Regions from separate parts of the Homo sapiens genome. Here all the other regions are reported to be linked to region 2. The links are microRNA targets in miRTarBase. Many come from high-throughput screens and were not tested one by one. Region 2 holds a microRNA gene; each other region holds the end of a gene's coding sequence.

Evidence for each region. The annotated mature microRNA hsa-miR-4746-3p reads AGCGGUGCUCCUGCGGGCCGA and lies in region 2 at 3,905-3,925, shown strand. An mRNA with a match to its seed (bases 2 to 7 or 8) in the 3' UTR can be bound and repressed. Matches are read on the target gene's strand: a 7mer-m8 pairs with bases 2 to 8, a 7mer-A1 pairs with bases 2 to 7 and ends in A, and an 8mer does both.
Region 1: the mRNA of NANOS1 is a reported target of hsa-miR-4746-3p. Seed matches in the 3' UTR shown: 7mer-m8 at 6,519-6,525.
Region 3: the mRNA of TMBIM4 is a reported target of hsa-miR-4746-3p. The part of its 3' UTR that is shown has no 7-base or 8-base seed match.
Region 4: miRTarBase lists COL13A1 as a target of hsa-miR-4746-3p. The part of its 3' UTR that is shown has no 7-base or 8-base seed match.

What each region holds. Positions count from the first base shown.
Region 1 is chr10:119,029,977-119,037,246 of GRCh38, reverse strand. It overlaps NANOS1 (nanos C2HC-type zinc finger 1), which reads right to left. Exons shown (of 1, transcript NM_199461.4): 1 at 3,517-7,270. The coding sequence ends at 6,567. EIF3A (eukaryotic translation initiation factor 3 subunit A) reads left to right here. Exons shown (of 22, transcript NM_003750.4): 21 at 1-128; 22 at 979-3,577. The coding sequence ends at 1,208. Among named protein-coding and RNA genes, the nearest start is that of NANOS1, 3.9 kb to the right of the region's middle. RefSeq lists silencers at 6,462-6,761, 7,132-7,270.
Region 2 is chr19:4,442,117-4,449,456 of GRCh38, forward strand. It overlaps MIR4746 (microRNA 4746), which reads left to right and starts at 3,862; the gene lies at 3,862-3,932. UBXN6 (UBX domain protein 6) reads right to left here. Exons shown (of 11, transcript NM_025241.3): 5 at 6,202-6,299; 6 at 5,434-5,509; 7 at 4,720-4,804; 8 at 4,384-4,603; 9 at 4,167-4,297; 10 at 3,933-4,081; 11 at 2,890-3,507. The coding sequence ends at 3,382. CHAF1A (chromatin assembly factor 1 subunit A) reads left to right here. Exons shown (of 15, transcript NM_005483.3): 14 at 129-225; 15 at 809-1,281. The coding sequence ends at 909. RefSeq lists silencers at 1,856-2,150, 2,260-2,428.
Region 3 is chr12:66,132,664-66,140,003 of GRCh38, forward strand. TMBIM4 (transmembrane BAX inhibitor motif containing 4) reads right to left here. Exons shown (of 7, transcript NM_016056.4): 6 at 6,061-6,106; 7 at 3,183-5,503. The coding sequence ends at 5,297. LLPH-DT (LLPH divergent transcript) reads left to right here. Exons shown (of 2, transcript NR_125724.1): 2 at 1,389-1,786. Among named protein-coding and RNA genes, the nearest start is that of LLPH-DT, 5.6 kb to the left of the region's middle.
Region 4 is chr10:69,956,744-69,964,083 of GRCh38, reverse strand. It overlaps COL13A1 (collagen type XIII alpha 1 chain), which reads right to left. Exons shown (of 41, transcript NM_001368882.1): 40 at 7,042-7,080; 41 at 4,940-5,385. The coding sequence ends at 5,383. LOC107984242 (a long non-coding RNA gene) reads left to right here. Exons shown (of 4, transcript XR_007062181.1): 2 at 661-766; 3 at 7,229-7,340. Among named protein-coding and RNA genes, the nearest start is that of LINC02636, 49 kb to the left of the region's middle. RefSeq lists an enhancer at 2,246-2,746 and a silencer at 7,196-7,265.

The DNA.
Region 1 (7,270 bases), not on the chromosome of region 2:
CCGGGACGATAGGGATAGGGATGACCGTCGCCGTGAGAGGGATGACCGGCGTGATCTAAGAGAAAGACGAGATCTAAGAGACGACAGGGACCGAAGAGGACCTCCACTCAGATCAGAACGTGAAGAAGGTATAGAGGTTACATACAACTGAAGTATTGGAGAACTGTCGTTTCTGGGGGGGGGGGGATTTGGGTTATTTAATTATATCATAAATTTGTATGAAGGCCAACAATAAGAGAGTTGATATTCTATTTAGAATTCATGATTTTCATACAGTTACTCAATGGTCATGTTGTAAAGTGCACTTATCTCTAAATTCAAAGTACAGTAGTAGACTAAATTGGATAGCAGGCAATATATATAAAGTTTACTTAATAAAAATGAAAAAAATTGTTATTTAAAAGCAGCTTCCTGGCAGATTAAGCACAAAGTAGAAACATTTTCTCTGAAATTGTAACAGAAGTTTATTCTGTTTTAAAATATATGTATTTTTCATTTTTAAAATCCTCATTTTTCTCTTGGTTTTTAAAAATTAATTTTCCATATGTCTTGACATCCTGTTATGAGAGAATTTTTCTCTCATAGCCATAACTTTAAAAACTCCTGTATTTTGTATGGTTAATTTGCTGTTAAAATTCTTCAAGAGCCAAAAATCCTTTCAGTTATAAAATTTTCATTCAGCCAGATTTTTGCCACCTTGTCTTACGGGTTTATACTAACTGTAGTCCTTCCCAGGCTAGTGGTTTCTGCCTGTTTTCAGATTTTGAGTTTTATCTGTACATTTGTATGTTAAAGATTGTCAGAAATTGTATGAGCTTTCATTATGATTTCTGTATTTAACAATACAGAATTTAACAGAATTTCTGTATTTAACAATGATTTCTGTATTTAACAATCTTTAGTACAGGAATTTTGAGTAATTTGAGCCAATAGAATATAGTACTAACTTAATTTTTTTTTTTTAATTAAACTTTTTAGTAAGTTCTTGGAGACGTGCTGATGACAGGAAAGATGACCGGGTGGAAGAGCGGGACCCTCCTCGTCGAGTTCCTCCCCCAGCTCTTTCAAGAGACCGAGAAAGAGACCGAGACCGAGAAAGAGAAGGTGAAAAAGAGAAGGCCTCATGGAGAGCTGAGAAAGATAGGGAATCTCTCCGTCGTACTAAAAATGAGACTGATGAAGATGGATGGACCACAGTACGACGTTAAGTCTCAAGATAATGGATTTAAACTGGTGTCTTAAATAGGTTTGATCACATTCAAGGATTATTATACTTGTGCTTCAACCAATCTAAATTGGATTCTTTAATGTTGTTTCACCATAACACAAAAAGCATGAACTTGTATTAATCCTATATAATAGATTGATCATGCACCATATCCACAGGAGGTTGGAAAAACCATGCCATTTTCTGGAATTTAAGGGTGTTGCATTATTTCATCAATCATTTGTTGACAAAAAAGAAAAACTAAAAAATAAATTTAAAATGTGACCCTTCAGGTATTGAGTAACACCTTTATCTTGGTATAGAACTGATACTTTTTTTTTGATTTTGAAATATCTGATAATAATTTGGAATGAAGTAAGGTTCTGTTAAAATATATTTGAAGACCCTTTAAAGCAGTGAATCTGAAACAATTTTCACACCCTTAAGTGGTTGATACGTACCTATTTTAGGTATTTTGAGGTATTTACCATAAACTAAATTTAGAAATTTTTTAGATTCACTTGAAGTAAACATTACAAACATTGGATACGGTGGGGTTTTCTTTAGATTTTACTTGAGAGAAGGTGAGTACAAAGCAATTTGCAGTTGTTGTAATGACAAGATTACTGCGCAAGTGTGAATCCAAACAGTATAGCTTTTAAATTTTAAAGCATTTGGTAAATTATCGCTGAGTTTTTTTCTGTTGCCAATAGCAAACTGCTTTTCCATTAATGGAGAATTCATGCCTTTCAAGCATTTTAAATATGACAATATTTATAAATGTATGGTTTGGAGGAATCGTTTAAATTCTCTTTCCTAATTTTCTTTCTTTTGAAGATAGATTCTTTCAACAAGTAATTTGTAGTAATGACTGTGTTGACTTCAATTTTGGAGCGCAGTAGCTATGTTAAAGATGAACTATTTGGTCTCATTGAAGCCAACACAGAACTTGCTGCTGTGTTTTTTCTTCAGTGATAAATAAAATACTTACAGAATTTGTTTTAGTGTTGATTTGTGGTTATAGTATTTTGTTTATAATGGTAAGTTTGCATATTCAGTTGAGTTTTTTTTACTTGAATTTTTATCAGTGCCATTAAATGTCTGTGTTTAGTATCAATGAAAATGAACCTAAATATAACAAAGAAAGCATATGTGGCTAGGATGTCCCCCTAACATGTCTTCCTTTGTTAATGCAGGAATTCCTTAGTTTCCTTGTAACGCTGTCCTCTGAGTTTGTGTGTGCATGTGCGTGTTTGAAGTACCACCTTGGGTTTTCACCTGAAATTAGAAAAATCGTAGTTAATTTGAGAAAATGTTACAAATTCATCATGGCTGTAGGCACTTATTTCTGTTATTGAGTAGTGGTGAGAATTCCTATTGGTACAGCTGTAGGGCCAGAAGAGGGAGTATTGATGCTTTTTAACTTAACCAGATGCAGCTATTTTTGTTTGATGTTACCAATGATAGAAATCATTTTAAACACCTTAGTATCTGGTATTTCAAATACGTAGAAGTCTTTAAAGGTCTTTCGTGGGGAGAAGGACTTTTCTTTCATAACAAGAGAATTTCAGATCAGTGATTACAAGTGGGGCAGTAACTTGCTAAGAGTTTGCTTCCTGGAGAGTAGATCTGTATGTGTGACATCACAGGTAAGCCCCAAGAATTTATTTAATCAGATTTGTTCAGACGAGTTACTGCTGCCTACGTTAGAGTTAGATTTCAAGGCGAGTCAGCAAACCCATCCTTTCTGCTCAGTCTCCCGTACTGTTCTCCCAAGTTCTTTGTTCTGGGAGTCAGAACCCAAGTGCAAGAGGAGGGCAGAAGAGTCTGATGCTGTTACTTTGCGATCCTGCTCTTGGTTTCCACTGTCCAGGCCATACAACTCTGTCTACTCCCATTAGTATTTACCAACAGGTGTTAAAGGAAAGCTGAACAAGCAGCCTACTCACCGATCTGCTAGGTGGTCTTCCATGTTCATGGTGGCTTCTGCAGTTTCATTGAGAGTAACATTGCTGTTAATACAGATAGATCCAGTAGTAGAGACATCATCGGTCCAAAAGACTTTGCATCTCATTAGTTGTCCATAGTGACTACCAGGAGGTGGCTGGCATCTATAACGTGTGGGACGTTTTTATGTAAAGAACTGCCTGTGTTTTTTTTTTTTTTTAACCAAAGACACTGACCATAGATTGACTTATACTTTTATAAGTCTAATTGAAATACTTGGGGTACTATGAAAGGACTGTTCCTTGAGTGGCTACGATTAGAAAATCAGGACTAACAAACTTTTCTTTGTCTGGAAGCATATATATTTGTGATATAATTTTAATATGTATAATTTTGGTTTAATAAATCAAATCTATGACAAAAGTTGTTCTCATCAAAGCTAATAATTCTGCAACTTCCAAAAAGGACTTTGTAGGAAAATTAAAATACAAAGAAAAATAAAAGCCACTAGAAATTTTAAGTCTGTACAGAAAAGAACAGGTTAAGACAATCTGTACCTCTACAGTTGGAGAAGCCCTTTTGACTCTTCCCTGTATTGTTTTGCTACTAGGCAAGTATGCAGCATGTTCTTATGAAGATAATTTTGTCATACTTTGTATATTTCTTAAACTTTGAAAAATTGGGTTTCTCTAAATGTAATTTTGCAAAATGTTTAAAGTTCCACATTGAGTTCCAAGGATTTTTAAATGAATGTGTTTACATATACTTTTCATAAGAGAACCCTAGAAAATTAACTATAGTAATACTCTGCGTTTTAACTCCCAGTATTCATTGTCAGCTGGAAAACCTAGGCAAATTTGGCACAGGGGCTGAACATGGGGTACTTTTTTTCTTTTTTGGAGACAGAGTCGCTCTGTTGCTCAGGCTGGAGTGCAGTGGCGTGATCTGGGCTCACTGCAACCTCCGCCTCCTGGTTTCAAGCAATTCTCCTGCCTCAGCCTCCTGAGGAGCTGGGATTACAGGCGCCCACCACACCACCCGGCTAATTTTTGTATTTTTAGTAGAGACGGGGCTTCGCCATGTTGGCCAGGCTGGTCTCCTGACCTTGTGATCCACCCCCGCCTCGCCTCCCAAAGTGCTGGGATTACAGGCATGAGCCACCACACCCGGCCTGAAAATGGGGTACTTTAAAAATAGATGAATAGTGGCTGCCTGAGTAGTGGAGAGGGTCTTCTGGATTCCTTTTCCAATACTCTCCTGCCCTCAAGAAGCTCCAGCTCAATATGTTCTTAGTTCTGGTAAAATAGCAATGTCAGAATATCAAATTAACATTAGGCACATCTCATCACAGTGACTCCCATATATTGAGGCTATGCCAAAGCCCCATGCTCAAGACCTTTGGAAACCGTCTGTAATTTGACTCTGAAAATACAAAGTAGCTAAATTGATCTTGCCACCTGGCTAGCCCTTTTGGCCTAGAGAATGCGCTGATCTGTTCATAGTGGTCCTTTTGAAAAGGCAGAACACGAGCAGTGAGAGAGGTAAGAGGATTCATGTTGACCTTAGAAACTTCACCCAGAAGGTGAAGCTCATTTAAACTGGTAGATTTTCTATAGCAAAAGAAAGGAGAACAAGTAATTACATGGTTTCATTAAGCTACTTAATTTAGGCCCAGTCAGATCTGCAGTTCTCTCTGGTCTGGGGTTAAGACTAGCAGCGTTGGATTATTTGTCTTTCCTGGCTAAGAAACATTGTGCTTTCCTCCTGCCCCCCAAGTTCTTGAAATGCACCTTTTCTTTCACCAAAAAGACAGCTATCGGGTATTTACCCCATCCTCTAACACACCTTCAAATGAAGGTTCCTGATTGAGTCAATTTGCTGTGGATGAAGTTAGCTGTTTAATGCGAAAGCAGTCTAACTTCTAGTAGCCTAGCTAAATCCTACTGGGAGCCTTATACACGTAGACTAAACTCTTGCTGGTATCTTCAGATAGTAATGCATTTGTGTATTTCAGATGAGTTCATCTTAATTCACTTCCATTTTTTGCCTTCTATTGCCTTGCTTGGCAGGTAGCTGCATTCCATAGTGTGGCATTCAGTATGGTGGATTTAAAAGTGAGGGTGGGAGGGTAAAGTAGGGGTTAGGAACTTTTGCCCAAGGATCAGGTTTAGTCTTGCTTATGGGTAAACTGGTGGGGTTCCGGAAACCGACATGGGTCTTCCAGTAGGAGTGGGAACACATGAAGGACCCCCAACAATTCCTTTAATTAGTGCTTATTCTAGTTTGAGCACTGCCTGTATTAAAGTCAGACGCAGCCCACGGTGGAACCTTCTTGAATACGAGTTAATACACGAATAGCTCAGAGCTAGAGATCCATCTTCTATTTGTTTGACAGGCAACAGCTGGAATGGGCTTTCCTCCACTAGGAACCCTGAAATTGAGTAATCTAGGGTGAATTAATACTGCTGTCTTCCCTTCCTCCCTTTGATCTTAATATCATAAACGTTTTTAAAGAACTGGAAGAGGGTGAGTGTGTAGAGAAAATGCCAAGTAGGAAAGTTACAGGTGAGATTAATGAATTCATACTGTTACTGTATAAATACACAATTTTTTTAAACAGCACCATTTCCAAGTTATACACAATATGATTATGACTTGGCACAACTTTTAAAGGTGGAAAAGGCTAGTTGCTAGTTCAGTAATAAAATACCTGGTACATAGAACGATAAGGAGCTGTATTCTACCTGCTACACATTGTGCATTTTACACCTCCAGCTAGGACAGAAACAAGCCACAAGCGGGGAATACCCGCCCAAATTAATACTGGAAAGTTTACAAAACCTTCACTTCTCATAAGGGTGATGCTACCAGCGGCTTGCTTCACCTGGAATTAGAGTAACTGATTTTTAAAGACAACTGAGAATATTAACTCGCTTCAAACAATAAAATAGTCATTTTGCCGACATTTCATAAAATCGCCAGTTTTAAGCTCAGTTCAGAGGCTTTTAAAAAAATATTCTAGACCTAGTAAAGTGCCTCCATTCATAAAATGAAACATCCAAGATTGAGACAATTTCATACTGATGCGCATCTAAAATAGGTCGACGTATACAGTAAATAAACAGCGCCTCTAAGTTGCCATATTTCAGTTAGTGGAATACACACCCAGCCTTCGCCGTTCTGGATGTGCAAACTAGAAACTGAAGACAAATGGGGATTTCAGCGTCTAGTCCCAATCGTTCAGCACGGAAGTACTCCACACGGTCGGCTGCTTTTCAAAAACCACCAGGACGACGTCCCATGTCGAGCCGACCGCTGAGCCGCACGCCTCCCCACGGCGGGGGCGAGATGGTGCGCAGACCTAGCGGTGCGAGGGGCGGCGGCGACCCTGGGCGGCCGGGAGCCCGGGCCTTCAGCGCAGCTTCTTGCCAGGCGGGCCGTCCCTGGCGCTGCGGGGCGGCGGGCGGGCGGGCGGCGGCGGCACTTTGGAGAGCGGGCAGTACTTGATGGTGTGCGCGTTGTCGCCGCTGGCGCCGCACAGGGGACACGTGTAGCGGCGCAGCACGGGACACAGCACTCGCCCGTCGGGGCCCTTGAGGATATGGGTGGTGTAGAGCGCCATCGCCTCCTTGTTGTTCCGGCAGAACACGCACACCTGCAGCTCGGGCTTCAGCAGCCGGGCGGCCGCCGCCCCGGAGGCCGCGTGCAGCCGGGGCTCGGCCGCCCACGCCGGGGCCCGCTCCTCGCGCGGCGTCGCCTCGCTGGTGGTGGTGGCGGCGGCGGCGGCGGCGGGCGCGCAGCCCAGCAGCACGGCGGCGGCACGACCCGCGAACGGGCTCAGCTCGGCGAAGCGCTCCTCCAGCAGCCCGGCCTCGGCGGGGCCCGCGCACAGCTCCAGCGCGCGCAATTCCAGCGCGCTCCCCAGGTAGCGGCCCCGGGACCCCGGCTCGTCGCTGTCGTCGTCGTCGTCCTCGTCGTAGTCGGGCGGCCCCAGCGCCGGCCCCAGCGCCCCAGGCCCGGCCCCCGTGTGGGGGGAGCAGCAGGACGACGAGGAGGAGGAGGGCGGGGAGCCGCCGCCGCCGTTCCCACCGCGGGCGCAGCCGAAGCGCGGCTCGC
Region 2 (7,340 bases):
ATGTTGGTTTCCTTCCGTGTTGGGGGTGGGAGGAAGGTGTCACACCTGTGGAGTTCCCCCCGCTACCGCACTGGCACCAGGGTGGCTGCTGCCTGCAGTGCTGATGGCCGTGTACCCTGTCTGTCCAGATTGGTGCTGAAGACATGGACGGCTTCCAGGCAGACACGGAGGAGGAGGAAGAGGAGGAGGGCGACTGTATGATCGTGGATGTCCCGGATGCTGCGGGTGAGAAGGGCTGTAGATAGCAGAACGCACTGGTGAGGTGGGCGCTGGAGGTAAACCTCAACAGAGAAGGGATGGGGCTGCCTAAGACTAGCTCCACTGTGAGCAGCCAGGAGGGCTTGCAGCTGGAAGTGGCTCCTGCCCTGCCACATCCTCGGGCGGGCTGGGCCGTGGGTGCTGACCATGCCAGGCATCGTTCTGGCCGCAGAGCCACAAGGGCCTATGCTGGGAGTCTCAGGTGGTTGTGACGTTAGATGGGGGTCAGGGAAGGCTGCACTGAGGCAGCAAGGGAGGGCCAGGTGGATTTCTGGAGCACTCGCCAAAGAGGAAGTACAGAGGCCCTGCAGCAGGCTGCGTGGGAGGAGTGTGCCCGGGTGGTGGGGGGCAGGCAGGGTCAACCTGAGAGCAGGTGAGCAGGTCACCTCTAGAAGAGGCACAACGCCCCAGCCTCTGCCTGTCCCCACTGTCAGGTGGAGGGTCCCGCCCTGGGGTTGTTGCAGGCCCCATGAGGCAGCAGGGTGGGGTCTTCCCCCAGGGAGCCCAGAGGGCCCAGCCAGCTCAAGACCCTCCCTCTCTTGCCCTGCAGAGGTCCAAGCCCCGTGTGGAGCCGCTTCCGGAGCTGGGGGTGGTGTGGGGGTGGACACCGGCAAGGCCACCCTGACCGCGAGCCCACTGGGTGCATCCTGAGAGCAGGGGTGACGTATGTAGAATGCTTAGGGTGTCCTCCCCACAGAGCAGATACTTGAACCGACTCAATTCCTGTGTAAAGAGCACTTTGTCCTGCTTCACGGACCTCCCCAAAGTGTGCAGAGTTCTATATAGGATGCTGGATTAGTTCCTTTGATATTTGTAAAAATTCCCCCAAGAGCCGCATATGAATCTGCCCTTTAATAAAGCATTATTGAGATTGCTGGCCTATTGGGGAAGCCTGCGGGCACAGGAGCAGGCGTGGAATCCAATACTTGTAAATGAATTGAAGCGTCAGGACCACCCGCCTGGCCACGTGCGCGGGCCCCTGGACCTAACGAGGCAGTGTATAAACTTATTCTCTAGCCCTGAGCTGCTCTGTCTGTCTTTTCCGAAAACATTGTGTTTCTCTGAGAGTGCACCTTGCCCATGGCCCGGCCCCATGTGGTGCCTGGTGTCTGGGGCCAGCCTTGTGCCCTGCAACAGCACCGTCCCATCTGTTTGTCACTAAGTCACCCTCATACCAGGCTGACCTGGGTCAAGGTGCGGGTTTTTCCGCACGTGCTTCTGTCCGGCGATCCCTCCTGCCCTGGGTTGGGGGGTTAGGAGAGGGTGTTCCCAGAGACCTGCTAGGGTCACCTCCCTGAACCCGGAGCTGCTGGGAGCCGAGTTTGGCTTCGAGTCTGAGGCTTTGTGAGAGCCCACCCCAGGTCAGGTGCATCTTTTGCGAGTGCTGGAGCTAGAAGGTGACCTCCTCCCCGCCCCAGGTTGAGTGGGCTTTATCCACACTGTCCGAGGGAGGACAGGCGACAGCCGCTGTGGTACTGAGCAGCTCAGAGCACACGCAGCCACGGGGAGGGTCACGCTCGCCAGTCCTGCTCTTCCCAGCCACACCCCACCTGAAGTCCTAAGCTTCCCTTCAGGGAACCCTATGTGGGAAAAGTGTCAGCTACCTCCATCCACCCAGTCAGGGACGGCAGGGCGCCCGGGCCAGGCCTTCCTGCTGGGAAGCAGGATTCAGCTGTGCCTGAAGCAGAGGCTGCCCCTGTGCCACACCTTTGATGAGCTTTACAGGGGCTCCCGACAACCCGGAATCAGGTCCTGGGGCCTGCAGGACGCAGGACTGGAGTGACAGCCTCCATTCTCAACAGGCCGGGTGCCCACACCAGCTGGGGCAGTGCCGGGGGCGAGGGAGGGACCAATGCAAGGTCAGGGGCACGAGCATAGGCCCCGGGCACCTCCCCCAGGTGCAGACCTGCATCCCCAAGTCAGCAGTGGGGCCGGGGCACACATGCCTTCCACACTGCAGGGCAGAGTCCCTGTGTCTCCTGGGGCTGCTGTACCACAAACCTGGTGGCTTAAAGCAAGTCACCATCTCACAGCTTGGGGGTCAGAGTGCACACATGCCCCGCCAGGCTAACATCAAGCTGTGGGCAGGACCAGGCCCTCCTGGAGAGTTTCCCAGTGCTCGGAGGCGCTGCATCCCTCAGCTCGGGGTCCCTTCCTCCACCTTCACAGCCATGCGCAGCCTCTTCCAGTCTCTCTCTGATTCACCCTCCTGCCACCTCTTGTGAGGACACTGGGTCCCGGACCACCCAGGATCATCTCCCAGCTCAAGACCTTTCATCATACCCAAGCCCCTCTTGCCAGGTGAAGTTGCGCATCTGCAGGTTCCAGGAATAGGATGTGGCCGTCTCAGGACACCCTGTCCCTCTGGCCACAGGGAAGCCAGGCCTGTGACAGCACTCGCCTCCCCTGCAGGGACTGGGCCTTTGTGGGCACAGCACAGCCTCCCCTAGCGCACGGGACTTCCTCCCCAGGTGGGTGGCTCATCGGGCACTTGTGGCCAGGTGCTGGCCTGAGAACAGGTATCCACATGGTCCCACCTTGACAGGGAGCCACACCCAGCCCCCAAGCCATCCGCTCTTCAGCAGGTGGGCCTGCCCTGTGTCCCACGGTTTCAACGGAGAACCAAGAAACTATATTCAAACAACCTGTTTATTTGGGCTTATGATTTACTAACTGCAGGTCTATGTGCAGGAAGGCCAGCATCCCCTCCTGCCGTTGTCACCCACATCCACAGAGCAGCCCTAGTGCCAGGTGCAGCCACTGCCACCCACGGCACACGGGAACAGGACCCATGCTGCAGGCCTGCTCTCCTGCCCAGGGAGATGCCACGTGTGTCTGTCCGGCAGCTTCATGACACAGTTACCAAGCAGCTAGGGAGGGCTTAGATTTGTTGGTGTCCCCAGGCCTCTCCCTCGGGGGCTTGGGCGCATCCCCACAGCCCCCAAGGGATGGGGGCTCTGCCACGGGGCCCAATTCCACAGCTCCACGGCTGGCGCCCCTCCCGTGCCCATGGGGCAGAGCCAAGTATTTCCAGAGGTGGCTTGGAGGCCCTGGGGTGGCGGGGAGAGGAACAGGGAGAGCATGAGACAGACCCACAGGGCTGAGGCCAACCCTGCTTTTATTTCACAAGAGCTTCTCGATGGCTGACAGGAGCTCGGGTTTCAGGATGGAGTCCGGCTCGGCCCCCGCGGCCTTGATGTCCTCCAGCACAGCCATGTCCCACGAGAAGGTCAGGAGGGCAGAGGGCACCTGCGGTAGGGGTAGGCCGTCACTCTGAGACCGAGAGTCGGCCCTTGCCGCGGCAGGGAACTCAGCGGGCAACCTGGGCGCGGGGATGCCCCGGCCTGGAAGCCATCTCAGCTGGTGGAGGCTGTGGCTCGCACCCAGGCCTCCTGCCCTCTCCCTCCGGGACTCCAGGACCTAAGCCTAAACCTACTGCACTAGCTAACGCACGTCACCGCTCCCATTTGATGGGGAAACTGAGGCGTGGAGTAGTTATGAACTTGCTCGAGGCCCTGCTGCCAGTAAGTGGGAAAGCAGGATTCAAACCCAGGGACCTGCCCAGGCCCCCTGCTCTGAGAACAAGGAGGCTCCCTCCTGGGGGTGTCTGTGCCGGTCCCAGGAGAACCTGCAGAGGCATCGGGTCAGCGGTGCTCCTGCGGGCCGACACTCACCAGCCCGCACTCGTTCAAGGCCAGGTTCTCGTCCTCGGACAGCTTCTGCCCTCCCGAGGCCAGCAGCTCAAAAGGCAGCCAGTCGCTCTGCAGGGCCTCCCGGACGAACCCGTACACCGCCCCCAGCCGCTCCCGAGCGTAGAAAGTGCCTGGGGAGTGGGGGAGTCAGAGCGGGTGGGGCCCAGGGCCCCCTACCAACCCGAGCCGCCCTCCACGGGCATCGTTGGTGCCCACCCTGCAGGAGGCAGCCATCGGGGAGGCGCACGCGCAGCAGCGTGTAGTTGTACTTGCGCAGCCCCCGCTGCTCCTCCTTCTCCCGCATGGCCTTGGTCCGCAGCACGCTCAGCCGCTCCACCGCCTCGGACCTGCACACGCGGGCCAGGTCACGAGGGCTGGCCGGGGTTCTTCCACCCCGCCCCGCCCCACTCTGCTCCGCGGACGTCAGGCCCACCTGAGCCTCTGCTCCCGCTTGATCTCCTCTGCTGTGAGGTTGAAGAAGTCCCCAGGCAGTTCGAACTGCGAGGCCAGGGGCGAGGGCTGGAAGACGCGGCGCTGCCTGTCCAGCTTGGCGCGCACGGGCTCCGCAGCCAGCAGCTGTTCCTTGTGCCTCTCCAGGCTCTGGGGCTGGGCCAAGGTGGTCTCGCTCAGCACGTAGAACTCCTCGGGGTCCTCTACAGCGTGGCAGGACATGGGTGTCACTGTGCAATGGAGAGACCCCCAAGCCGGGCCCTCCTGCCCCGAGGCCCCTCGTCCCCATTCCCTACTCAGCCAGGCCCTGTCCACTTACCCTGATCCTGGGCGGGAAGCAACACCTTCTGGAACCCAATGGCCTCAAAAAACTCGTGGGTCCCTTCCAGGCAGTTAATGCGCTCCTGGGGGTGGAGATGGGCGTCACTGGGGGCCCCTGGCTTCCTCCATGGCCTGGCCACACCCCACCCAGTCCAGGGGCCCGGCTCTCGCTATTGGGAGCAGCTGTCGACCCCTGGATGGGGCCCAGCCCTGGGGGTGCCTCAGTGCTGGATGCAAACCTGCTTTTCTACGGTGGGGGCTGTGGAGTCTCCAACAGCTCTGCACAGAGGAAAGAGTCACAACCAGGCACGAAGAGTGAGGCTGAGGAGCCAGACACTGCTGGGGCCTGATGCGAGGCTAACACCGCCCAGGACCCCAGTCCCTGCCCTTTCCCCCAGAAGAACCAGACATCTGGTTTGCATGAGAAACCTCCCCAGAGTCGACATGTTCCCAAACAAGCCCAGCTGAAGAGGAGGAAAAGGATGCAGGTGAGGAGAGGCAGAATTTGTTGATTTGGGGTGACCGGTGCATAAAAGTCTTGCTCTCCATCTTGTCCTGCTACCTTCTACTGGCCGAACCCTTCACTGCTTGTGGCTCAACTCTCGCTAGCTCCTCCAGGGAGCCCACCGCCTGGTGTGGGCCACCACCGGCTCCTGCAGGCCAGCTGCCCCCACCCCCAGCCTGGGCCCCGGGGGCCAGAAGGCACGCCCACCTGAAACACCTTGTTCTGCAGCTTGATCTTCCGGTACTTCTCCTCCTCGGGGTGCAGGTGGATGTTGTCCAGGTACCTGGGGTAGGTGGAGAAGGTGAGTGGGGCACAGCCCAGGCTGCCCACCCGGCCCCTCTGTGCCTCCTGCTCCAGGTAACAGCAGCTCAGCCACACTTGGCCTCTAGTCAGAGGGAAGAAGCGGCCCAGTGACGCGAGGGCAGCAGACCATCTCCGGGTGGAAGGCACACCTCGGACACCCCATGGAGCCCACCCCTGGTGCCAGCAGGAGCCCCACGGAACCCCTCACCGTCCCACCAGCCCTGGAAGGGCACAATTAACCACAGCGGTGGGGAAGCCACAGTGCCGGAAGAGTGGAGAGCCAGAGCTGAAGGGCCGCAGTGCCAGCAGGGGGCTCCTGCGGGGTGCTCCCTCGGCGTTGGCGGGCAGCGTGGACCTCCAGGCCTGCCCCCGATCCTGAGACCCGGGGAGTGGGGTGGGACCCTGCCTCCTCCACATGTTCCCCAAGGAAGCCAGGGTGGGAAACCCCTGATTCCTTCAACACCTTCATTTTGCACACGGGTAAACTGAGGCCCAAGGAGGCCCAGCCCTTTGCCTGAGGCCTCTGGGTGGAGCTGCCTCACTCTCGGCCTATGCTCCTTCCCAACCCACCTCAGCAGGTAATGAGGGGGCCAGAGGGGGTGACAGCCCCAGTGGGAGGGGTGCTGGGATGAGCTGGAGGGGCCAGGCAGGGCAAAGGGGCCACACGCTCACTTGGCAATGGTGTCCACACCCAGCTTCACCCGGTCCTGGTCTTTGTTGAACGTGTAGATCTTCATGATGGAGGCGGCCACTGGGTCGGTGGAGAAGTGCTGGGAGGAGGGAAGCAGGGAAAGCCACTCACTGAGAGCCCGGGCCGCACGGCCCTCCGCTGCCCAGGTAACAGGGGCAGGAAAAGGAAGGCAGAACAGCGGCTTGGAGCGGCCCCAGCTGTGCGCTCATCACAGAAAGGAAAAGAGAGACCCTCCAAGACCGCAGCCCTGCCCACGCCCCAGGGCAGAGGCGACGCAGCCAAGACCCAGCAGAACTCAAGTCTCCCCTTCCGCCTTCTCAAGGCTAGATCCATGGGACTTGGAAGCCAGTGTGACGCGACAGAACTGTGCCTCACACTCTGGCTTTAGAACTCGACCTCAGTGCTGAGATCCATCAAGGCCACCGCCACTTACAGAACCTCCCGCCACCATGGACGCCCCATCCCTCCTGCTCTCGCAGCCCCATGATGGACGTTCTGGAACCACTCCCGGGCCTCATGTTTACAAAGAGACCGAGAGGCCCATCGTCCAGGGTCACAGGGATGGCAGGTGGCAGAGAGGACACAAATGAGTCTGCAACCCTCAATGTCTGAAACTCAATAGCTGGAAGACGGATACCCCCAGCCCCTGCCCCTCCCCGAGGTCCCACCTATCCACCTATGTTACCGGGGGAGGGGAGAAGTCATAGCTGGAACTCTGGGGGTTTCCCAGAACCAGCCCTGCTGACTGCGAACAGCGTCCCAGCATGGAGAGGCTGAGAACAGTACGTACCCTAAGACCTGGAAAAGATTGGGGCACAAATCCACGCTCGGCACAGCCATCACACACGGCCACACCCAGAGAGCCACCCATGGCCTGGGAAGCAGGGCTGCCACCCGCACCTCCCTGGGCTGCCCAGACGAGGGCGGGTGAACAGAAGGGCAGCCCAGGGCCATGTGTCAGGATTCGGGCCACCTGCCCAGGCAGCCCAGAGCTCCACCCACCACCCCCCACCCTCAACTGCACAGCAGGGTCCCTCAGCAGCCCCCTGCGTCACACGGACCAATGACCTACACACTGAGCCGGGGCTCATGCCAACTGAAAATTGGGACCCGGCCCAGT
Region 3 (7,340 bases), not on the chromosome of region 2:
TCCCTGATCTGCACAATCAGTAAGGAACAGGAAGACTTCTGGGATTCAGATAGTGACCCCATGTTGCCCATTCCCTAGATAATGGGGACTTCAAGACAAAGCTCTAGAAAAATGAAAGGAAAAAGCAAAAAGTATCTAAGTCCTTAGCTGCTCCAAAAAAAAGGCCTGCAGCTGCAGGCTGTTGACCACTAATCCCTGGAAATGCATCAAGTAGACTGAAGCTAGGTCTGAGAAGAAATCAAGGCAGGTGTATACGGCCTACTGCATCTCTTTTCCCAAATTACGTTCAAGAAATACAGAAGTTCTCAGATATTGCTCTTTCCTCATTTTCCTCCTACCTCTTAGCTGTTCTTCCTATGGCCCTTGCACACTGAGTTGCCTGTTGCTCTGTCCAAGTCCTGCTAATTCCATGTTCTTTTTTTTTTTGAGACGGAGTCTCACTTCGTCACCAGGCTGGAGTGCAGTGGCACGATCCTGGCTCACTGCAACCTCTGCCTCCTGGATTCAAGTGATTCTTCTGGCTCAGCCTCCTGAGTAGCTGGGATTACAGGCGTGCGCCAACACGCCCAGCTAATTTTGTATATTTAGTAGAGACGGGGTTTCACCGTGTTAGCCAGGCTGATCTCGAACTCCCAACCTCAGGTGATCTGCCCGCCTCGGTCTCCCAAAGTGCTGGGATTACAGGTATGAGCCACCATGCCCAGCCCTAATTCCACTTTCTATTAATATTTCTGAAGTCTGTGTATTTTCACCTTTACTTAATGCAATGCTTTAAAATGGTCGAGGTATATTCCCTACCTAGAAGAACTCATACTTATACACAGTGGGACACATACACGGACTTACATACCACATAAAATTCATTGACAGAACACAGGAATAAACCAATGGTTGATTTATAAAATGTAATATTTTGTACCAAAGGTTTTCAAACTTCTTGGTCTTGGGATTCCTTTACACGCTTATTATATTGATCTTATCAGAAATTAAAACAATTTTTTTTGGAAAATTTAAGTCATTTAGAAAGGATAAACTTACTACATGTTAACATTTTTATGGAAAATAACTATATTTTCTAAATAAAAAATAATTTAGTGAAAAGAATGGCATTGTTTTACATTTTAAAAATGTCAGATCTACTTTTGCTTATACAGAATCTTTAGTCACAATCAGTCCATTCCACCTTTGAACTGAAAATGGTATTAATAGCGTGCAAAAATGTAAGGGGGCCTCTCCCTCTCCCTCTCCCTCTCCGTCTCCCTCTCCCTCTCCCTCTCCCTCTCCCTCTCACTCTCCCCACGGTCTCCCTCTCATGCGGAGCCGAAGCTGGACTGTACTGCTGCCATCTCGGCTCACTGCAACCTCCCTGCCTGATTCTCCTGCCTCAGCCTGCCGAGTGCCTGCGATTGCAGGCACGCGCCGCCACACCTGACTGGTCTTGGTGGAGACGGGGTTTCGCTGTGTTGGCCGGGCCGGTCTCCAGCCCCTGACCGCGAGTGATCCGCCAGCCTTGGCCTCCCGAGGTGCCAGGATTGCAGACGGAGTCTCGTTCACTCAGTGCTCAATGGTGCCCAGACTGGAGTGCAGTGGCGTGATCTCGGCTCGCTACGGCCTACACCTCCCAGCCGCCTGCCTTGGCCTCCCACGGTGCCGAGATTGCAGCCTCTGCCCGGCCGCCACCCCGTCTGGGAAGTGAGGAGCGTCTCTGCCTGGCTGCCCATCGTCTGGGATGTGAGGAGCCTCTCTGCCTGGCTGCCCAGTCTGGAAAGTGAGGAGCGTCTGCGCCCGGCCGCCATCCCATCTAGGAAGTGAGGAGCGCCTCTTCCCAGCCGCCATCACATCTAGGAAGTGAGGAGCGTCTCTGCCCGGCCGCCCATCGTCTGAGATGTGGGGAGCGCCTCTGCCCCGCCGCCCCATCTGGGATGTGAGGAGTGCCTCTGCCCGGCCGAGACCCCGTCTGGGAGGTGAGGAGCGTCTCTGCCCGGCCGCCCCGTGTGAGAAGTGAGGAGACCCTCTGCCTGGCAACCACCCCGTCTGAGAAGTGAGGAGCCCCTCCGCCCGGCAGCTGCCCCGTCTGAGAAGTGAGGAGCCTCTCCGCCCGGCAGCCACCCCATCTGGGAAGTGAGGAGCGTCTCTGCCCGGCAGCCACCCCGTCCGGGAGGGAGGTGGGGGGGTCAGCCCCTGCCCGGCCAGCCGCCCCATCCGGGAGGGAGGTCGGGGGTCAGCCCCCCGCCCGGCCAGCCGCCCCGTCCGGGAGGTGAGGGGCGCCTCTGCCCGGCCACCCCTACTGGGAAGTGAGGAGCCCCTCAGCCTGGCCAGCTGCCCTGTCCGGGAGGGAGGTGGGGGGGTCAGCCCTCCGCCCGGCCAGCCGCCCCGTCTGGGAGGTGAGGGGCGCCTCTGCCCGGCCGCCCCTACTGGGAAGTGAGGAGCCCCTCTGCCCGGCCAGCCGCCCCGTCCGGGAGGGAGGTGGGGGGGTCAGCCCCCTGCCCAGCCAGCCGCCCTGTCCAGGAGGGAGGTGGGGGGGTCAGCCCTCCGCCCGGCCAGCTGCCCCGTCTGGGAGGTGAGGGGCGCCTCTGCCCGGCCGCCCCTACTGGGAAGTGAGGAGCCCCTTTGCCCGGCCAGCCGCCCAGTCTGGGAGGGAGGTGGGGGGGTCAGCCCCCTGCCCGGCCAGCTGCCCCGTCCGGGAGGTGAGGGGCACCTCTGCCCGGCCGCCCCTACTGGGAAGTGAGGAGCCCCTCTGCCCGGCCAGCTGCCCCGTCTGGGAGGGAGGTGGGGGGGGGTCAGCCCCCCCGCCCGGCCAGCTGCCCCGTCCGGGAGGTGAGGGGCGCCTCTGCCCGGCCGCCCCTACTGGGAAGTGAGGAGCCCCTCTGCCCAGCCACCACCCCGTCTGGGAGGTGTGCCCAACAGCTCATTGAGAACGGGCCATGATGACAATGGCGGTTTTGTGGAATAGAAAAGGGGGAAAGGTGGGGAAAAGATTGAGAAATCGGATGGTTGCTGTGTCTGTGTAGAAAGAAGTAGACATGGGAGACTTTTCATTTTGTTCTGCACTAAGAAAAATTCTTCTGCCTTGGGATCCTGTTGATCTGTGACCTTACCCCCAACCCTGTGCTCTCTGAAACATGTGCTGTGTCCACTCAGGGTTAAATGGATTAAGGGCGGTGCAAGATGTGCTTTGTTAAACAGATGCTTGAAGGCAGCATGCTCGTTAAGAGTCATCACCAATCCCTAATCTCAAGTAATCAGGGACACAAACACTGCGGAAGGCTGCAGGGTCCTCTGCCTAGGAAAACCAGAGACCTTTGTTCACTTGTTTATCTGCTGACCTTCCCTCCACTATTGTCCCATGACCCTGCCAAATCCCCCTCTGTGAGAAACAACCAAGAATTATCAATAAAAAAATAAATTAAAAAAAAAAAAAAAAAAAAAAAAAGAAAATGGTATTAATACCATCAGCTGACATTAATTAAGCACTTAGTTTAGTTTATTTATCTATCTCATTTAATCCTTATAACAGCCCAATAAGCTAGACATCATTATTCCCATTATGAAGATGAGGCAGAAGACCTAAGGAAGGATAAATAATTCGCCAAATGTCACTTAAGCACCTGGTTGGACTGCAATGATTCTAATCTAGATGCTCTTACCCACCATGCTGTTAAACTTGATTGCACTGCATCATACACTTGATAATTCAACAGTTAATGATAATAAAGTCAAATTTACATCTACAAATCATGCAAGCTTAAATTGATACTACAAGTTTATTTCAACTTAATAGCTGGGAAATACTTAGGGGGTGTTATGGGCTGAGTTGTAGTCCCCCCAAAATTCACATGAAGAAATCCTAATCCCAGCACTTCAGAATGTGACTGTATTTGGAGATAGGTTTTGAAAGAGATAATTAAGGAAAAATGAGGTCCTCAGTGTGGGCCCTAATCCAGTATGACTGGTGTCCTCATAAGAAGAAGAAATTTGGGCACAGACAAGTACAGAGGGAAGGCCATTTAAAGACACAGGGAGAAGATGGCCATCTACAAATCAAAGAGAAAGGCCTCAAAGGAAACCAACCCTGCTAACACCTTGATCTTGGACTTTTAGCCTCCAGAACTGTGGGAAAACAAATTTCTTGTTGAAGCCACCCAAGCTGTAGAACTTTGTTATGGCAGCCTAACAAACTAGTACAGTGAGGGAATTTGACAAAATTTCATTGGTTACTGGTACACTGACCTAACATGCTGTGTGGACCAACACAAATGAAACCATAAGACAATACTTCCCAAATATTTTAATTTTGAAATAGATATACTTAATGGCTGATGACCCAGTATCTTTGGTGTCCTCTAACCACATTACCATTCTATAATTTCAAATGAAATCTATACTTTAAAAACAATTAATGTCAAATTTTGTCATAATATCTGACTTTCAGGCCAACTTTTAATGTTAGTACAATTTAAAATAAAAAGTCATTAACATTTTAATGTAATACTGAATAATTCTCTGTGGAATTTATCTTTTACATTTTTTTCCTTTTAAGCAAAAAGAGATTTACAGTTTATAATGGTAAAGACTCTACTACTTCAGAATCAAAGCCAAATCAATATTACTTAATAATTCAGGGAAAATTTAGATAAAATCACTAGACAACGGTAAACTGATATTCTTATCTACTCATAAAATTATTTTTGAATTGCAAACGAACTGCTATGCGTGGCTAATTTAGGAAGAAAAATTTTTTTTTTTTTTTTGAGACTGAGTCTCGCTCTGTCACCAGGCTGGAATGCAGTGGCGTGATCTTGGCTCAATGCAACCTCCACCTCCCAGGTTCAAGCGATTCTCTGGCCTCAGCCTCTTGACTAGCTGGGACTACAGGTGTGTGCCACCACATCCAGCTAATTTTTGTATTTTTAGTAGAGACGGGGTTTCACCATGTTGGCCAGGATGGTCTCAACCTCTTGACCTCGTGATCCACCTGCCTCGGTCTCCCAAAGTGGTGGGATTACAGGCGTGAGCCACTGTGCCCAGCCAGAAAAGCATTTTTAATAGAATTTTGATAGCTCTTAACTGAGATCCTAAATCAAGGATTTAGAAATGAGGTATCATAAAGAATAGTAAGATTTTAAAGCTCTCAAAATTACATATGATACAAATAAAGATTGTAACAGTATTTAATCATTGTTTCAAACTTTATTACTTAATGAAACAGTTTCTATATACTGCTTCCAATTACTTTAATCCTTTTTTCTCATTAAATTTTTTTTGTTGTTCTTCAGTTGAGCTGAGATACTTTTAATTACTTTTTATTAACTGCTTCCAGAAACCGTAACAGGTGCAGGAATAGATTGATGATATCCAAGTAGAGGCTGATGGCAGCTAATACGTACTCTTCAGGTGACAGTTTATGCATCAGTGAGTGTGTGTCATAGATGATGAATCCACAGAAAAGAAGGGCTCCTGCAGCGGCTAAGACCAACTCCATTATCTCACTATAAAAAAAAAACTATAGGGAAGAGATTAAAGAAATATGTTTATATTTGAGAACAGTATTAACAGGACTTAACTTACTTCCTCTAATGATTTACTGCTACATTATACATTTGACAATGGTGTACAACTTTGAATACAAATGTTAAAAGCAGAAAAAGGCAAGGCAAGTCCAAACTTGCCTCTGTTGGATGGAAGGATGAATGAGTGGTTATATTCCATTAAACTAAATTACCCACTTTGAAAAACAGCATTCCACATATAAATTATTTAAAAATATATTTCGTTTTTCACAATTAAATGTGCCACTGGAGCTTGGCAGTTGTAAGCAAGGGCCTCTTTCTATGTAATTTAATTCATTTATTCATTCATCTTTTTTTCAGTCAATAATAAGGACCAACACAAGACCCTGATTTTCTAAAGGGATAATTCTATAATCATTCTATATACAAATGTTCTGGATAATTATAACTAAGTGTCCTATCATAAGAGTATCTCTTATAGCTTTTTGAGGTTATTTATATTGACACAGCCAGAATTATATTTCAAATTAACCATTATAACATAACTTACCTTCAAGAATCCTGACAGGCACAATATCCACAAAAGAGCAAACAGCCTATAAAAATACAATTTTAGTAATTTGCAATATTGTTCCTTACAAAAAAACTTTGTAAACCCATTCAACACTTTCTGAAAAAAACATCCATCTGGATTTTTTGCTGAAGAATAACTAAAATGTAAGAATTTGTAAACATACAATGAATATAATGCCCATCTTGGATCTTTTTTTTAAAGAAATTGAAAGAACAGCTATTTATTCAACATTTGTCTTTATGGTATACAAACCTAGTTAACAGTATAATTTGTGAAGTTTTGGAACATAAAATACAGATAAAAGCAGAAATATCATTACAAGTATTTTAATTCAGAGATCTATAAAAACTTTTAGAAAATATATAAACAAATGAACTAGGATTGCACTTTTAAACCAAGTAATAACAAGTTATTCTGTGAACATGTCTATCGAAGTTCACAATGTACTTTCCATTTTATTCTTATGTATTATGGAACTTAATTGATGGACACATCTGACACTGCTATAATTTTATGAGTTACAATTCAATTGTTATATATAGAGAGTATAAATTATATAAGAAAGGACATCTAAGAAGTCAGTCTTTTGTTATAAAATATGGGACTTATCAGCTGCTTCAGGTCACAGGGAATTACAGAGGCCACATTTATCCTCCTTCCTTAAATAAAACCAGACAAAATATATGAAACAACAGTTCTTGGACACTGGACAGCAAACAGCACAGGACAGGGATTCCTGAGATAAAGGATACAAAGAAAGTGAAGTCTATATTTGCCCCAGCTACAGAGGGTTTCCAGGCCAGCGTGTAGGGATAAGAACCCATACAGTCACTTGCGGTCTCCTTGAGTTGAGCAGACAAGAATTCAGAGGTCAGGGAAGCCAAGGTAGCTAGAATTTGCAGGGCAGAATATCAGAAAGAAGAGAACTATCCACCAAAAGTGAGCACTCTGGTGTATGCACAGGATTCCCCTAGAGTCTGTAGCTACATTCTGATTAATACATGCATGTTAAGGAGGTGACCAAGGCTGGAGAAAGAACCACAATAGAGAAGCAGGCAGAACAATCCTCAGAGTTCACACAGGACTGGGAATAGTTTGCATTCACACAAGCTGGAGTAGAAAGACCTCGTAAGACATGCACTGAGTAGTATGCTGAAGGGTACTGTCTCAGCAGTACCCTTAGGGCCAAATGAGCCCCTAAGCTAAAAGCTGTTCTGGACCTCCTAACAGAGCCTCAAAAGGTTTACTTTCCAAGG
Region 4 (7,340 bases), not on the chromosome of region 2:
TCGCCATCCCACTTGTCCTCCCCTACCTGAGAAGCGAGCATGGCCCAGGCTTGAGCTCACTGGAAGATTCTACCGAGGAAAGGAGCTTGAGCCCAGGGTGGGGACTGCCTACATGCAGGGCCAGCTCCTCCATCTCTGCTTTGTAACACCCCTCTCAGCTGACTCAGTCATCTGCTCATTCTGTCCACACTGGCCACCGCAGGAGCTTCTGTCCTCAGCACCCCTGCCCTGGCTGGCTGTACCTCTCACTTAGCACTTAGCACACTTGTCCCTGATGGGTGTGCTCCTGGTGGTTCTGGTGAAGCTCCTGGAGGGTGGATGGGTGTGCTCTTGGGTGTGCTCTGGTGAAGCTCCTGGAGGAGCTGGGTCTTACAGTCCTAGGGGCCTCTTCCCTTTCCTTCCCAGCCTGGCAGGAAGCACAGTGTCTGCACACAGCAGGTGCTTAACAAAGCTGGCTGATAACTCAGCAGGTGGTAGATATGTATGATCCCCCGTCGATGGCTGGATTGTAGGGGAGACACTGAGCTAGGTCCCTCCTGAGCCTGGGAGTAAGAAAGTCCCTGCCCTTTAAGAGTTCACTATCAAAAATGGAAGAGCCCCTTTGCACACTCTCACATAAAGTGGAGGAAGAAAAGAACACTGAGTTCCAGGCAGTTGCAGGGAGGAGAGACTCCACCAACTGAGGAGCCCAGAACCGTCTCTCCAGGGCCATGGGATCTGAGCTGGGCCTTGAAAGGAGGCAGATAAGAAGCAATGGCATCTCCAGGTAAGGGCCCGGCTAGGGCAAGCGTGTGGAGGGGCAGCAAAGTGTGTGCGCAGGGTGAGTGGCAGGCCTGGAAAGGAGGTGGGCCTGCTGGGGAGGGCCCTGGGGGTACAGGGGCCGTGGCCCTCTACCTCCCTCTGAGTCGCCTTCCACAGGTGCTTGGCTGTTTCTCAGAGATGAACTTTTCTAGCAGCCAGAGGTCACTTTGCATGTGGATTGCACCCAGTTCTGCCTGAGTGGCTAAGACATGGCTCCCTTCCCTGCACCATCCTCCTGTTTCCTTCACCACAGTGAGGGGCATCCTGCTTCAGCGACCCCTTGGGAGTTCTGCTCCTTTGAGAGGTGAACGGCTGCTCCTGCCCTTGCTTTCCTTCTCTGCTCCACATCTTGATGTGGTGTCCTTTTTTCTGAACACTCACAGGGAGCCTACTCTTTTCTTTTGCAATGATGTGGAGTCTTGGGTGCTTGATGTCTCATGCTGGCTGAAAATGTGTCCAAGTCCAGGGCAAGGGGAGAGACACGCTGGGGGAGTGTGTGGGGTGGTGAATGGGAGAGACACAGTGGGCCTGAGAGGAGGGAGGGAGGTGGGCCTCCCCATGCCAGTGCGGTGTCCCTGAATGTGTGTTGGGGCTTGGGGATTCCCGCGTGTGTCAGGTGGCCAGTGCTTTATTGCTTTCTCTCTGATACATCCTCTGTGTCGACACCAATGTGAGAAACAACCCCTACAGCTGTTCTTGCCCTAAGGCAAGCTGACCCCGCTCACCCTACTCCTGGGTGGCACAGGCCTACTCCAAGTTTTGTTATTTGGGGTTACAAAGCACACACATGCCACACACAGTTTTGCAAAACCAATGCCATGCATAATACTGTCACAGCCAAATAACTCTAGGTGGAGGGGGGGACATGGAGTACTCCCGCCTCCACAATCCTCCCAGGAGGTGACCTGCCTGTGGGGCCAGAGGGCCTCAGGGTGTCGGAGCTGGAAAGTTTTATGGAGGTCACCCATGTCCAGCTTCTTCACTTGACGCTTGGGGAAACTAAGACCTGGAGTAAGGTGCCCAAGCCACACAGTGAGGTAATGGTAGAGAAAGAACTAGAAGCTGAGTCTCTCGACTTGCTGGCCAGTGCCCTCCTCCACTTATGGGTTAACGACAACCCTCCCCAGCTCCATCCTATGCCATTCTGCCAGGCGAAGGCAGGGCCGGGGAAGGGAGGCCAGCACTGGGTGGGGCGGAGATGGGGCGGGGTGGGCATGTGTGGAAGGAGCCTCCTCTTCCCTCAGCAAGGGAAGCAATGTGGCTTCCCTTGGCTCACATGACCACAACCACAACTCCCCAGCCTTGGGGAGAGGCACCATTCGGGCCCAGATGACCCGGTCACACTGTCACCCATGGGGTACTGGCTCATTCTTTGCAGGTATCCAGGTGGACAACGCTAGGCATGTGTCCTGCTGTGCCAGAGCACGCAGCCACAGGCACTGGAATGAGAGAGGAACTGCAGGAGACAAACGGCCTTAAGACCCAGTGCCTTACAATTTACAAAGAACTTTCACCAACATGCTCAGTGGGCAGGGCTGGGTGCACCTCTGGCTCCCTGGGCAGGCAGTTCTCACCAGGAGGTGCCGCAAGTCCCCCAAAACAGACAGCATGTCTTTCTCCTCTGCAAGCCCTCTGTGGCCCCTGTCCATAGGGCTGGCCTTTCCCTGGTCCCTCCTGCAATGTGCCTGCTTCTCCTGTTCCATCACTGGATTGTTTCTTCTCGCCTGGTTGTCCTGGTCTGCTGGGCGTTAGTATGGACTCACAGCTACTGTGCAAACTCTTTGACCACGTGTCTTTTTACTTCTCATCTCCCTGTACTGCATTTGACACACAGCCAAGATTCAAGTGGAGAGGCTTGGGGGCAGGGGCCTGAAGTCAGGAGCCCGGGGTGCAGTCCAGTGATAGGGTGGGGTCCTGGCTGAGTACTATGGCAGCAACAACCGTGTGGGGAGACAATGTGTTTACACACACGGGGCTAAACCTCGGGGGGCTGCAACCCACTGGGCAGGGCAGTGTGGGCTCCGAAACCAGGCCCAGCCTTTTTTTTTTCTGTGACCACTAGGTGGCCTGAAGTGATGTGTGTGACCCTGCCTCAGTTACGGCAAGGACCTTCCCCATCCCCTGGGCTTCCCAGCCACAGCTGTCTCCTCTCTACTTGTTTTCCTTGACTCTGACTTTTAAACTTCTCTTTACACACATTTCTATTTTATTACATAGATTCTTGTGACTTTGAATCCTTTGTGGCAGTAGGTAAAGTGTCATAAGTAAATGAATAACCCCAGGACTGGAACAAAAGAGGTTTCTTTGCCCATTTACCCAGGATATTCAGCTAACACTGACTCTCCCCTTTCTGGGTTCCAGTGAATGTTCTACTCTATCCTGAGATCATCAGTGAGCTGTGATTGCCCTGGCCAGAGCCTGAAGGGGAGGGGGTCAGAACGGGGTCACACCCTGATTGCCTGGGCCCTCGCCTGGGAGGGGAGGAGTGTGGCCTGGAGGTGGGGACACCCGCAGCTAGGGTGACTGTGAATTCTAAGGGGCAGAGGATGTGGGCTGGGCTGCGTTATGACTTTTGGGGGCCCTGGGCAGTTTTGCCTTCCTCCATTAAAAAAATACAAAAAATTATATTTTACAATTGTGCTGGTAGAAAGACAAAAACAATCCTGGCTGGATTCATTGTTATATATTCATTTTTTTTTTCTAAATTTAAAAAGGTGAAAAATTAAGATATTTTTGTGGCCTCTAAAAGTACTCCGTGGCTGCTGGAGAAGTTGTCCCTGGGCTACAGGGCCATGAGAATCCGGCCCAGGGCAAGAAACATCCCTGGGTTCAGATGAACCCTCTTTGTGTCCACAGAGATCAACTCTTGTTCACTACTGCATGGCTTCACTTTTCTTTTTTCTTTCCTTCCTTTTTTTTTTTTTTTTCCTTTTTTTTCTTTTAAGGCAGGGTCTCACTCTGTTGCCCAGGCTGGAGTGCAGCGGTGCGATCATAGCTCACTGCAGCCTGAAACTCCTGGGCTCAAGCAATCTTCCCACCTCAGCCTCCGGAGTAGCTGGGACTACAGGCGAGTGTCACCACACTCAGCTAAATTTTGAAAAATGTTTTTGTAGAGATGAGCGTCTCATTATGTTGCCCAGACTTGCTTCACTTTTCAAATGAGGAACCCAAGACTTAGAAGAGGAAGTTGTCCAAGTTCTAAGCTAAGCTAGTGACATTTAGAGTAAGAATGTTGGTATAGACGTTTTGGGTCTGAGCTGCGTGTGATTTCATTACCATGAGCGCTTGTGAGTGTGACCTCATCCCCACACATGGCAGGGGTCTAATGACTGTGAAGCCCACTAATTTAGAGTTTTGTGTGACAGCATGTGGACAGAGTCTGAAGTTAAATTTCCCTTTGCGTTGTCTAGGAAGAAAGGATGTGTAAAGAAAATGCAAAATGTAAACCAGATGGGGATGTATGTAAAGTACTGGAGTAATTTGTTGTTTTCAAGCTTTTAGAAGCATGAATTTATGTTGTCAAACAGCTAACGATAAACCTGTATGCTACACCACAGGTAAGACTTAACTGGTCATTAAAACCGGTTTCCTGAGACCTTTTCTAAGCAATGCACTAAATATGGAAAGCAATACAACATTATTTCTTAAAAAAATAAAAACAACTTCAGATTGGCCCAGCCCAAGCCCAGATCTAGGCATGTTTCTGAATGCTCTTTGCTGGAGTGGAACAGCAGATGAGGCAAAGCTCCTTCAACTGCTAGTTGTGAGTGAACCCACAAACTCATATCAAGTCAACAGCTGTGATTAGCAATAGCTGGTACTAGGGACTGTAGCTCAAAACAAAACAAAGCAAAACAAACAAGCAAAAACCTACCATAACCCAACAGCAAGAGCAAATGGCTCCTTTGAAACCCTGGGTGCCCTTAGCACAACTGAACCTAAATGCTCACACAGCAAGCACTGTGATAAACTTGGGATCTGTAACAACATACATTGCTCGATAAAGTTCCCTTCCCTCCCTTTGTTGAACCTCACATTTCAAAACCTTACTCCACACTTCTGAGGACCCCTACTTCTGGGAATTCCTGCTTTCACAGGAGAGAATGTATTTAATATAATGATTAATCAGGATCATGAATTGCCATGTTTCATTTCCTTTAATAATGAAAATCCATAAGGGTTTAAAATACTCTTAGACACACCTAGCTTAGCAAATATCATGGACCTCTACATTTATGTGAATTCACACATGAGCTAGCCAGCACCTCAGTTCTGGCTGGCCCCCTTTGGCACCAGGACACAATAATTTATTAAGCTTCGATACTTAATAAATGTGCACAAATATCATGCAGACATTACGACCAAACAAAAAATGTATTAGAGACATAGGCTTATACAAAACATCTTGTAAACAAAAGGGAAGAGGTTGATATTTTCTGTACAAAATATGCAGGTTTTTCTTTCTTTTTTAATAATCTGTAAGATGCATCATACTTCTGGCATTTTCAAAAAGTGAAAACTGTATAAAAATAAATATTCTATGTACAAACACACACACAGGCCAATCCAAGGTTAGAGGCATCACTGCAAAACAAAAACAAAACAATGTTCTGTTAGTTTCAGTGGGTCTGCAGAGGTTTATTTCCTTTGTAGGAAGGGAGGTAAATCTTGTCCTGGGTTGGATGGGAGTTCTGGACAGGAGAACTGTGGGAACCCTGAGCCCCTAGGTGAAAGAAACTGGTGGCGACCTTAGCTCCCTGAAGGGAGGAAACCAAGTTCACCTCTCTGTGAATCCCCTTTGTGGTCACTAGAGGGCACTCTCTTTCTCTGCTGCCTTTGGAGGCCTGATTGTTGTAACCACTGCATTGTCCCAGATTGGACTTAAGGTGTGAATGAGTAGTCTTGAAGCTCTCTGGTTGCTTCTCCAAGACATTGCAGCTCTTGGTAGTGGCTGTTCTTCCCCTGCTAAGCACAACCATTTCTGTCTCCTAACCATTGGCAGCAACTTTAAAGAGGAAATTTTTTTAGGGGTCAAGGGTTCAGAGGTCTTATGACACCTCTGACCTGCTTTTGTGGCGCTTTAACTAGGTCTAAGTGGAGCTTGGCAGGAGGACGAGGCCAGCCTCCAGGGATGGATTCTGGGGAGGCATCTCTCTTGAGTGTTGAGCTTTTCCTTCTTGGGTTAGGGGGTGCTTTAGGTATCCAGGCAGGTAGGTGGTCAGCGTTGGCCTGGGGTCTTGGTGGTTTCACCACTTTTACCCAACCCAGTGCACTAGTGAGATTCTGGCATCTTAGTACAGGGGAGCTTGTTCATCTCATTGTAAGTGTGACTCTGCTGCCACTGGAACAGGACTGGATTCGTTGAGCACAGATTCTTGAACATGTTGGAGTCTCCGGTCCCTTTATGAGGATGAACCTTGAGACAATGGTGGTGGGGGGTTGGTGAGAAGACTTGGAGTGACAGGCAAGGTGGAGGGAGACGGTATGGGGCAGCATAGTGGCTGCCACCATTGCTGGGGACCAAGGCGGGTCTTCTGGATTAGTTAGCAAGCAGATGGCCTCTGTCTGCCTGGGCAGCCCTGTGCTCTGGGGAGCCATGGTTGAATGGGGCGATCACATGCAAGGGCACAGTCCTATGATGTCAGACTGCTCTAACAATGGCAAATGCCAAGGCCAGTGTGAATCAATGAAAACTCATTGTTGGTAGGAACTCTGGGAGCCCAGGAGAGATTTGGCTGCAGGTCACATGTGTGGTGGCATGAAGCTCTGCCAGCTTAAATGCAAGGGGAGTGGTAGAGTGGTGAGGAGCACAGCCCCTAGGGGAGGCACAGTAGCATGTGAGTTCAGAGTGAAAGCAACTGAGATGTCCTACGTCTAAGACATGTCATCACGTGGCATAAACGACCTTAGAGGAACTCTATGAGTGTGATCTGGAACTCCTTGGGGAAGTTCCTTGGGGGAAAGACACTATGTACATTGAACACACAAAGCATAAAGATGTCACCTGTGTGGCTGCATGGACATTCCGCCTAGGGTTTACTGATGTTCTAAGAAGCATTTTAAAATGTTTGTTAACAGCATGCAGTGTATGGGATGTTTAATGGGCACCCTGCCTTTGAGACAGTGACTATTTGACCTATGTCTTGCTGCCTCATCTGTAGCAAGGCAGAATGGAAATTGTGGAAGCTTTATGGCACTGCTGAGAACGGAGCCCCAGTGCACACCAATGGGAAGCCTTACCTTGTTCCAGCAGCCTTGGACTGGTAAGCCATCTTCGCCCTGCAAGGAGAAAGGAAGGCAGAGGGCTCAGACTTCCTGCAATGGTCCACCAAGTGGGCAGGACAGGGGTAACAAGGGCCACACGCATTTTGGCAGCTGATCAGGATGTGGCCCACCCACGCTTGTCTATTTCTTTTCTCTACTACAGGTCAGAACCTCAGAAGGAGGTGGAAACAAATCCGGCTATTTTACCATTGGTTAAAGGTCACATGCAGCTATAGTGCAACGTCAATAGGGGCTGTCCTAGCCCGTGGGACCAG